Homo sapiens: one gene and its partners. The protein of the gene in region 3 purifies or fractionates together with the protein of the main gene of each other region. This does not show direct contact. Each region holds a gene or a part of one and is shown on either strand. Other genes may lie near its edges.

Region 1 (3,500 bases), on a different chromosome or scaffold from region 3:
AGAACAGACAAAAGCCGCAGGGACGAAGTTGGGGTCGTGATAGCGCTTGAAGTGCATGTCGAGAAGCTGCTTCTGGCGGAAGGTCTTATCGCAGTGGCTGCAGGCGTAAGGCTTCTCCCCGGTGTGGGTGCGCTTGTGCATGATCATGTGCCTCTCCTGAAACGGCATAGGGGGAAAGGCCTCAGAGCCTGCTCATGGGGCTACTGCCCCAGCTGCCACCTGCATGCATGTGGCCAACAGGTATTTCTCACCCAAGCTAGGTCTAGACTCCACACGGCTTGTTGAGATGATAAAGCTATATATTTAGAGACAGGGTCTTGCTCTGTTGCAAAGTCTGGAGAGCAGTGGTGTGATCATGGCTTACTGCAGCTTCAAAATGGGACCATAGGTATGAGCCACCATGCCTGGCTAATTTTTTTTGTTTTTTTTTTGAGACGGAGTCTCGCTCTATCGCCCAGGATGGAGTGCAGTGGCGCGATCTTGGCTCGCTGCAACCTCCACCTCCCGGATTCAAGCAATTCTCCTGCCTCAGCCTCTTGAGTAGCTGCGATTACAGGTGCCTGCCACCACACCCAGCTGACTTTTTTTTTTTTTTTTTTTTTTGAGATGGAGTCTCACTCTGTCGCCCAGGCTGGAGTGCAGTGGCGCAATCTCGGCTCACTGGGTTCATGCCATTCACCTGCCTCAGCCTCCGGAGTAGCTGGGACTACAGGCACCCACCACCACGCCCAGCTGATTTTTTGTACAGACGGGGTTTCACTGTGTTAGCTAGGATGGTCTTGATCTCCTGACCTTGTGATCCACCTGCCTCGGCCTCCCAAAGTGCTGGGATTACAGGCGTGAGCCACCGCGCCCGGCCGACCTTCGTGTTTTTTTGTTTTTTTTTTTTAGTAGAGATGGGATTTCACCAGGTTGGCCAGGCTGGTCTTGAACTCCCAACCTCAAATGATCTGCCTGCCTTGGCTTCCCAAAGTGCTGGGATTACAGGTGTGAGTCACCGTGCCTGGCCCCAGCTAATTTTTTCTTTTTCTTTTGGAGACAGAGTCTCGCTCTGCCACCCAGGCTGGAGCGCAGTGGCGCAATCGCGGCTCAATGCAACCTCCGCCCCAGGTTCAAGCGATTCTCCTGCCTCAGCTTCCAGAGTAGCTGGGATTACAGGCGTCTATCACCATGCCCGGCTAATTTTTGTATTTTTAGTAGAGGCGGGGTTTCACCGTGTTGGCCAGGCTGCTCTCAAGCTCCTGACCTCAAGTGATCCGCCCACCTCAGCCTCCCAAAGTGCTGGGATTACAGGCGCTCGAGCCACCGCGCCCGGCCCTAATTTTTTCTTTTTGTAGAGATGGGGTCTCTCTCTGTTGCCTATCTCGGCCTCCCAAAGTGCTAGGATTACAGGTGTGAGCCACTGCACCCGGCTTGATAAAGGTATTTTTAGTGTGGTGCACAACTGCTTCCATAATTGTAGCACAGATAGAGCTGCTTATTCCTGCTGAGCTCCTTCTTTGGCTCCCTCCCAACAGTCATGTCCCCGCATGAGATTCTTCCCCTCTCTCAAGTCCTGGACTTACTTTCCACAGTTTTCAGAAAGATGTCTGCTTAAGGAAGAGGTAAGCTGTGACTGAATAAAACATCATCTGGACACCGGGATGACACAATTGACAAGGAGCATGACCTTTGATTTTGGTGACATTCCTCATAATCCACAGTTTGAAAATACTATCTTTAAAAACAGCCACTGTACTAGATATGTAAATGCCCTCTGATAACACCAGACACCGAGAAAGCACCAACAACTTTCAATGAAGGTTCCTACCTGTCTACAAGCGTAATCACACTGGTCACACTTAAAGCGCTTCTCATTCTTGTGTGACTTCTGATGCTGGATGAGGGCATAGCGCTCATGAAACACAGCATCACAGTAACGGCATTTCTTGCCTTGCTCAATATAGGAATGCTGCTTTCGCAAGTGGACACCTGAAAGCACAGTAAAAAGCCCAGGGTAATGTGAAAACACAAACAAGCATTTTAACAAGTTACTAATACATTTCTCGATTCTTTTTTTTTTTTTTTTTTTTTGAGACGGAGTCTTGCTCTGTCACCCAGGCTGGAGTGCAGTGGCGCAATCTCAGCTCACTGCAAGCTCCACTTCCCAGGTTCATGCCATTCTCCCGCCTCAGCCTCCTGAGTAGCTGGGACTACAGGCGCCCGCCACCATGCCCGGCTAATTTTTTTATTTTTTATTTTTGTATTTTTAGTAGAGACAGGGTTTCATCATGTTAGCCAGGATGGTCTCAATCTCCTGACCTCGTGATCTGCCCGCCTCGGCCTCCCAAAATGCTGGAATTATAGGTGTGAGCCACTGCGCCCAGCCCATTTCTCCTGATTCTTAAGTATTACTCTGGGTGCTATACAGAAAATGAATGAAAAGGCAGAGTAACAGGTGCAGGGAGAACAATTAAGATTGTTCAAACAGGATAGGTGGGAGAAGATGGTGGCTGGGACAAGGGTGATGACAATGGGTGTGGATGGAAGGGGAAGAACTGATGAGAGATGGAAGCAGTTGAATCAACAGGATTTAGTGACTGTAGAGAGTGAAGAATAAAGTAGGTATCAGGCCTGGAAAACCAGGTAGCTGTTGGGGTCATTTATTGAGACAAGAATAGTGGAAGAGGGCTTAAGACCAAGTTGTATGTGTTATTTTCAGGGTCGGGGGGTGGGGGGGCATAGGGGACAGAGAAGTTTTAGACCTTCAGTTTTAGACATGCTGAATTTGAAATGCCAGAGATATAAAAGCAGGGGTGGGATGGCAAGGGATACACAGTTATATAAGGCTAACTCAAAAGAAAGATCTGGAGTAGGAATATAAATGTACAAGTTGTTAGGATTTGAAAGCAGCTATGCTTATCACTGTACCACCAATGCCACAAAGAGTTGTTAGAATTTGAGCCCATGGGAGCTGATAAGATCACCAAGGCAAAAAGTAGAATTAAAATAAAAAGAATGGGTCATGCTTTGAGAAGTCTAAGAGTTGGCAGGCACAGTGGCTCACGCCTGTAATCCTAGCACTTTGGGAGGCCATGGCAGGTGGATCACCTGAGGTGACGAGTTCAAGACCAGCCTGGCCAACATGGCAAAACTCTGTCTCTACTAAAAAGTACAAAAATTAGCTGGGCGTGGTGGTGTATGCCTGTAAACCTGTAATCCCAGCTACTCGGGAGGCTGAGGCAAGAAAATGGCTTGAACCTGGGGGGCAGAGGTTGCAGTGAGCCAAGATTGTGCTACTGCACTGTACTCTAGCCTGGGCGACAAAGACTCCATCTCAAAAAGAATCCCAGCACTTTAGGAGGCAAAGGTGGGTGGATCACCTGAGGTCAGGAGTTTGAGACCTGGCCTGGCCAACATATAGTGAAACCCGTCTCTACTGAAAAATACAAAAATTAGCTAGGCATGGTGGCGTACACCTGTGGTCCCAGCTACTCGGGAAAATGAGGAAGGAGAATCAT
Region 2 (3,730 bases), on a different chromosome or scaffold from region 3:
ACAGGATCTTACTCTGTTGCCCAGGCTTGAGTACAGTAGCGTGATCATGGCTCACTGCAGCCTCGAACTCCTGGCTCGGGTGCTCCTCCCACCTCAGCCTCTTGAGTAGCTGCGACTACAGGCACATGCCACCATGCCCAGCTAGTTTTTTGTATTTTTTGTAAAGACAGGGTCTCACTAGGTTGCCCAGGCTGGTCTCAAACTCCTGGGCTCAAGTGATCCTCCCACCTCGGCCTCCCAAAGTGCTGGGATTACAGGTGTGAGCCTCTGTGCCTGGCCTAGAAAGTTTTGTTATCTGTTGCAACAAGGTTCCCCCTTTTGTTTTTCAACATTTTCTTGACAATTTTCATGAATTTTATTTCAAGATGAACCTTACGTAAGGGAACTTGTAGCCCAGACCCTTGTGGCATTGTAAGTAGCTTCTGAGTGGTGCCTCTCTCATGGGCCTCTTTGTGTTTCTCTGGCCAGAGTCCTTTGAATATCCCTAGGCTGGTGATCCTAAAGCTTGGGCTTCTCCATCTCTTTCCAATCCACATGTTTGGAACATGTTTTGTTTTTTTCTTTTCGGAAGCTATAGGACCTCCTTCTTTTAGTCTCTAAAGACCCAAGAGAAGTTAAACCTTAAAGCTTTTGTATTATCTATTTCTGTGTAGCCAATTACCGCCAAATGTAGCAGTTTAAAACAATACATGTTTACCATCTCATAGTTTCTGAAGGTCAGGAATCAAGGGCACTTTAGCTGGGTTGCTCTGAGTTTCCCATAAGGTGGCTGTCAGAATGTTGGCAGGGCTGGAGTCAGCTGAAAGCTTGCCTGCGCTAGAGGCTCCGCTTCCAAGCTCACTCACATGGCTGTTGGCAAGAGGCATCAGTTCCTCACCACAGGAGCCTCTTCATAAGGCTGCTCAGGACATGCCACCTGGCTTCTCTCATAGTGGGTGAGCTGAGAGAGAGACCACGACAGATGCTGCAGTATCTCTTATAGCCTATCTCAGAAGTGGCATACCATTACTTGTAACATACTTTTTGGTTTATACATTCTGTGATATGGAGAGGGAGGCAGCTAGACAAGGATGTGAATACCAAGAGGTAGAGATTATTGGGGGGCAACTTGGAGGCTGGCTACCAAAGTCTTTGTTGGTAAATCTTGTGGGATTTTTTTGGTTTTGATTTTTTGTTGTTGTTGTTAAAACATGCTTCAAAATTAAGAAATTATAAAAGGTGTGTGATGACAAGTCTTCCACCCCTGACCCCTAGTTACCCAGTTCCCTTTCTTCCAGCCAACAATTATTTTTAACATCTTTATTATACTTCCAGGGGGATTTTATACTGATACAAGGAAATGTACATAATATTTTTCCTCTTTTAACATGAATGATAGCATGCTGTACAGCTATTTTGCACCTTGCTTTCTTCACTTAATGATACAGCTTAAAATGGTTCCGAATTGGTGCATAATCATTTCCTTACCTTTTACAGCTGCATAGTATTTCACAGGGGTGTTGTAGCATGGTTTACTTACCCATTTTCCTATTTTTTGGTTATTCTAATTTTTGACTATTACAGTAACAATATGGATTATGTCCTGTGTGTGAGTAATATCCATGAAGTCAGTTCATGGAAGTGGAATTGCTGGTTCAAACATTAGTTTCAGTTATAGTTTTCATGGATAATTACCAAATTGCCCTCCCCATGGACTGTGCCAGTTCTCTTGGCAGCAGTATATGAGAATATCTATTTGCACATACTCTTACCTACACAGAGTATATATCAAACCTTTGAATCTTTGCTACTTTGAGAGACAATTATATCTGTGGTTTTAATTTGAATTCTTCTTATGAGTGAAATTGAACATCTTTTCATATACTTAAGAACCATTTGTATTTCCTTTTCTGTGGTCTGTTCATATTCTGTGCCTATTTGTCTGCTAGTGTTTTCCTTAGTAATCTGTAGGAACTCATTGTTAGAAATTTAGTCTTTTTTGGAGGGGTGGGGGAAAGTTGTTAATATATTTTACATATTTTTTAACATATAGGGTTATTATATGTTTTACTTTTTTATTGTTTTGAAACAATACAGTATCAAACTTTGAAAAAGTTGCAAGTGCAGTACTACAAACTTTTTTTAGTAGCAGTTGAGATTAAGTTGCTGACATGATGCTTCACCATCCCTATTTAGTGTATATTCCCTTCAGATACAAACATTCCACAAAGCCTTCTACATAATCATAGTACAGCCTTCAGAATCGTGAAACTAATACTAATGGTTTTATTATCACGCCTAGCAGTCTCTCTGCTTCTTTGACCCTAAAGGAGAGGAGCACACACTCTAGAGGTAGACTTCCTAGGTTCAAATTCCAGCTCTGGGCCTGGTGCGGTAGCTCACGCCTGTAATCCCAGCACTTTGGGAGGCCAAGGCGATGGATCACCTGAGGTCAGGAGTTCGACACCAGCCTGGCCAACATGGCAAAACCCCATGTCTACTAAAAATACAAAAAATTAGCCGGGTGTGGTGGCACGTGCCTGTAATCCCAGCTACTCGGGAGGCTGAGGCAGGAGAATCGACTGAACCTGGGAGGCAAAGATTGCAGTGAACCGAGATTGCACCACTGTACTCCAGCCTGGGCAACAAGAGCAAAACTCCATCTCAAAAAAATAAATAAATAAATAAATAAATAAATAAATAAATAAATAAATAAAAATTCCAGCTCTGCCACTCACTAGTTGTAGGTCTTTTGGCAAGTCACTCAATCCTACTATGCCTCAATTTCCTTATCTCTTACAAAGGATGTAATAATCATGCCTCCTTTGTAGGTCATTGTGAAGATTAGATGGTTAATGCTTAGAATAGTGGTTGCTGCAATGTGAAAACCATGTTGGTGTTCCTATCATAATAATATTATTAGATGAAGAATAGTTGATAAGATTAAGTTTTAATGTTTTCTAGTAGCCATGGATGAGGTTATCAGAGTTCATAGACTACAATGTAAACTACAAATTGTTCAGCTAATCCAGGATATACTTTTGTTCTTCTCTTTTTAGATTCCAGAATGACTATCTTGACTTACCCCTTTAAAAATCTTCCCACTGCATCAAAATGGGCCCTCAGATTTTGTAAGTTTATTATTATTTTTTTATTTTTAGAGATTGGATTTGGATTTATAAACATCTCGCACAGATACTGAATGGTATTGCTTTTTGTAAACAGTTTATTTTGTCTTCCAGCCATAAGACCTCTGAGCTGTTCCTCCCAGCTACGAGCTGCCCCAGGTACAGTAATTTGTAAAATAAATATTTCTGATTTAAATGTTAGATTCCAGATTCTATAGTTTGTGAACTCTGAATAAAAACCAAAACTAATTTGCTAATTCTCCCCTTTTTATGAGCACATGAACATCTCTGTTGCCTTCAAATTAAAAAATTATAGGTCCAATCAATAATGATACTACATTATTTAGGATTAGGCTTGAGGATGTTAATGGGAGGCTGTTTTCTGGGATTTGAACCTGCTGGAGTCATGGAGGTTCCATAAACCTCGTTGGTCAGTTTATTTATCCTCTTGCTGTCCGTCCTGGAGGTGAATGGCATACAAATGCTCTTGAGACCTGCTATGGAACCAAAAGTTAACTTTAAATTTGCAATTTGTGAAATGCTTCTCTATTGATGAATATCTTCTTCTCCCATGTGCAAGAGGGCCCATTCCTGAAATAGAAGTGATTAGGAACTAGTTAATA
Region 3 (3,730 bases):
TTTTTTTCACTTATTATTTTTGAGACAGGGTCTTGCTCTGTCACCCAGGCTGGTGTGCAGTGGCATGATCTCAGCTCACTGCAGCCTTGACCTCTTGGACTCAAGTGATCCCCCCACCTCAGCGCCCCCATGTAGCTGGGACTACAGGTGCACACCACCAGTCCAGGCTAGTTTTTTTTTTTGGTATTTGTCATAGAGGTGGGGTTTTGCCATATTGCCCAGGCTGGCTTCAAACTCCTGAGCTCAAGCAATCCACCCACCTTGGCTTCCCAAAGTGCTGGAATTACAGGCATGAGTCATTGCACCCAACCCAGCATGAGTTTTTTAAACAAATACAATGATATGTTACATCTTGCTTTTTCACTAGTAGAACTTGGACATTGTTATATTTGGTGTATGAAATAAATTCCACATTTTTTAGAAGACTGCATAGGATTCCAACATATGAATCAACTGTACTTCCCTTAGTGATTTTTTTTTGCTATTATAAAATAAAATGTTGCAATGAATATTTCTCCACTTTTGTCAATTTATATGTGTGATAGGTTCCTAAAAGTGAAGTTGTTGAGTGAAAGCACTTGTGTTTTAAATTTTAAAAGATATTACCAAACGGCCCTGTCAGCACCCATCTGTGTCTTTTTTCTTATTGATTTGAAAAAACTCGCTGCATATTAAAGCTATTGATGCTTTACCACAAGTATTGAAATTAAATATATCTTACCATTTTTTTCACTTATTTGTATATTTTTTCATTTTATGGGGATTTGCTTAAAATTTTAGGAAATCATGCTTATCAATCTTGTGATGAGTGTGAATATAAATTCATATGTTTTATCACATTTAGACAGGCCTCTTCACAATTATTTTAAAACTCACCTAAGTTTTCTTTTAATAGCTTCATTATTTCAATGCTATATTTTTATTCTTTGTTCAGCTTGGAATTTATTTTGATATAAAGAGCAAAGTTTTGTTTTTTTTTCCAAACGATTTGCCGTTTTCCCAAGACCATTCATCCATGGCCCTGCACCTCCCCCGCCTGGTGTGCAAAGCCTCCCTTGGACCCATGCCTGCATATTATCTGGGTCTGGGCTCTACTCCCCACAGCAGCTTCACTTTACAATTTTGTGGAGTTTGTCTCCCTTAACACCTTTATCTTACATTTCTTCCCTGAGTCTTCTCATAAGTCTCTCTCTCTTTAAGTTTTTGCACATCTAAAGTGAAAGAAACACTTTACCGTAAGTATTTTAATGTGCTTAATTGTGTTTGGTCTTCACACTGACAGAGTTCTGGAATCATCTGTACAGCAGGCTCATTTCAGGGGCCTTAGACATCTGTCCATCTCCATATCTGGAGAGCTCCCTGGTGCTCTTGATGGCATCACAGAAAGGCCATCGTGGGGAGGTGCCAGTCTTCACTCACACATTTGTTACAGGTTGAATTGTGTCCCCCCAAGTTCAAATGTTGATGTCCTAACTCCCTAACCCCTCTGAGTGTGACCTTATTTAAAGACAGGGTCTTTACAGCAGTGATTACGCCCCATTGAAGTCCTTAGGGTGAGCCCTACTCCAACATGACTGGTGTCCTTACATGAAAAGGAGATCTGGACCCAGAGACAGGCACACAGGGAGCATGCCATGTGGAGCTGGAGATGGTCACCCACAAGCCAAGGAGATGCTGGGGGCACATTGTCCCACCCAACCCTTGGAAGGAGCCACCCTGGGACATCCTGACCTCAGTCTCTTTGGCTCAGAGTTGGGAGGCGACACATTGGGCTGTTCAAGCCGTTCAGTATGTGGTGCTTTGTTATGAAAGCCTGATCGGACTGATACTCCATTCCTCCATAACAGACACTGACACAGCTTCCAGAGTCTTCTGAGAAGAAACAAGCTCCGGGGAATACCTTACACACTGCTGGCTTCTTTGGGGAAATCATCCCTCACAAACGCTTGCCTTTCTAGCCTGAGCCCTTCTCCCCAGCTGCCAAGCTGCCTTTCCTTGACCAAATCATTGAAGTCCCACCTGCCTCACAAACATTTCCATAACAGGAGGGAAACGGGTCTGAGATCTGTCCACACCTGTCCACTCCCAACCCTCACGACAGCAACACAAGCAGAGAGCAGCAGTTCTGCCCCGTAGGGGGACAGCCACAGACATGGAGGTCTGATGTGGGAAGGACAGAGACACTCACAGCTAGGGGCTCGGCACTCACTTTCCACGAGGCTCTAGTTCACTCTGGATAGTAAATTTATCTCTATGGAAGGAAGGCATGCATAAAAGCTTCAGCTCTTCTCACTTGAGTCTCTCATTGGTTTGGGATTGTGTCTAATTCCTATTGTATATGCTTAACTTCTCAATGCAAAAGCCACAAAGATCAAAACAAGTTTTGTGTAACCATTGGTGATGAGTAAAATTGGCATGTCTGACACTGAGCCTGTGTCCTCCCTCTGCCTCTCCAGGCTTTCCTGAGCTGCTGACAGGACTCCAAACCTGCCCACCAATTAGGCAGGACAGCAGATCCTCTTTTACGCCTTATTAGAGTAGTGGATAGGGATTCTGGTTCTGGATTAGAAACACCTAGTTTTGAGAGTTCTAATCCCAGCAGCATCACTCAGTGGTTGGACAAATCCCTTCACCTTTCTGAGCCCGTTTCTAATCGGGTTGAATTAGATACTCTGCATATTTAAACAGGCTTCTAAGAATCTATGAATTTGGACCCTCGGTATCCTAATAAGCAGGACAGACTTCATGACAGAGCTACAAGATCACCAGCAGTGATTTGGGGAACCTAACGCCAAGGCCTGCGATGCAGCCTGCTCTAGCCAGGCTCTTCCTGAGCCCTCACTGTGAGTTCCTTCACGTAGCCATGACCATCAGCTGATTGGTGTTGTTAACCAAAAGGAAGTGGTGGCCTTCCACCTCAAGCATATGCACAGCTATAAATGCAGAGAAGGGGAAGAAACATGAAAAACAGTATTACAGAAAATGAAGTCATAGCACGCTGAGGATCTGAGGAGATGTTCCATGAGTAGCTTGGCAATGAATGCTCTCCTTGAAAGGCATGAAGCAGGTCAGGCTCACACTGAAGGGGGCAATCACAGTCCCCCTGTGCAGGCAGGCAGCAGTGTGGGGGGTGCAAGGTGGGAGAAGACCAAGGGTGGAGTGCCTTAGAAGCGACAGAGACCTGAGGGAGGAACAGGGAGGAGCGGGAGGACAAGGGAAGAGTAGATGCTCCCCAGCTCCAAGAAAGCAGCAGAAGACGCCTCGCAGGAAAAGACAGGTGTGTGGCTTCGTTTGAATAGGGAAGGCATGGCCATACCCACAAAGAACAGGGAGTTCCTGCCACCCACACACCACACAGACCAGTTATGGGCCCATCCTGCCCTGTGCACATCCAGGTCTTGCCCTCCTCCTATCTCATGTGGGACAGGCTGCAAGAATGCAGCCTTAAAAGACTAATGCCTAGGGTACCTAAAAAAAAAAAAAAACCAACACACACGTGGAAATACCCAGCACATCAGGAAAGCTGACAGCAGGAGAGAGAGGCACCAAGCATGCAAGCAGATGAACTGATACCCCGGGAGACGGGGGTAATGGTGCACTCAAACAAGTAATAAAATACACAGAAAACTAATACATCACTTAAAAAAATCCCAAAGAAGTAACTACATTCCTTGGAAATTAACCACCTGCTTGCTAAAATAATCATAGGAAAACTAAGTGGATGGACTGA

The links.
Region 1: the proteins of SYK (region 3) and CTCF purify together in Homo sapiens (affinity purification with mass spectrometry; one large-scale study listed by BioGRID and IntAct). This does not show direct contact.
Region 2: the proteins of SYK (region 3) and HADHB purify together in Homo sapiens (affinity purification with mass spectrometry; one large-scale study listed by BioGRID and IntAct). This does not show direct contact.

What each region holds. Positions count from the first base shown.
Region 1 is NC_000016.10:67,625,026-67,628,525, reverse strand, and holds part of CTCF (transcriptional repressor CTCF), read right to left. Parts: intron 1,972-3,500; coding exon 1,811-1,971; intron 157-1,810; coding exon 1-156.
Region 2 is NC_000002.12:26,251,209-26,254,938, forward strand, and holds part of HADHB (trifunctional enzyme subunit beta, mitochondrial isoform 1 precursor), read left to right. Parts: intron 1-3,038; 5' UTR 3,039-3,046; coding exon 3,047-3,110; intron 3,111-3,221; coding exon 3,222-3,266; intron 3,267-3,730. UniProt on the Homo sapiens protein: Mitochondrial trifunctional enzyme catalyzes the last three of the four reactions of the mitochondrial beta-oxidation pathway.
Region 3 is NC_000009.12:90,808,217-90,811,946, reverse strand, and holds part of SYK (tyrosine-protein kinase SYK), read right to left. Parts: intron 1-3,730. UniProt on the Homo sapiens protein: Non-receptor tyrosine kinase which mediates signal transduction downstream of a variety of transmembrane receptors including classical immunoreceptors like the B-cell receptor (BCR).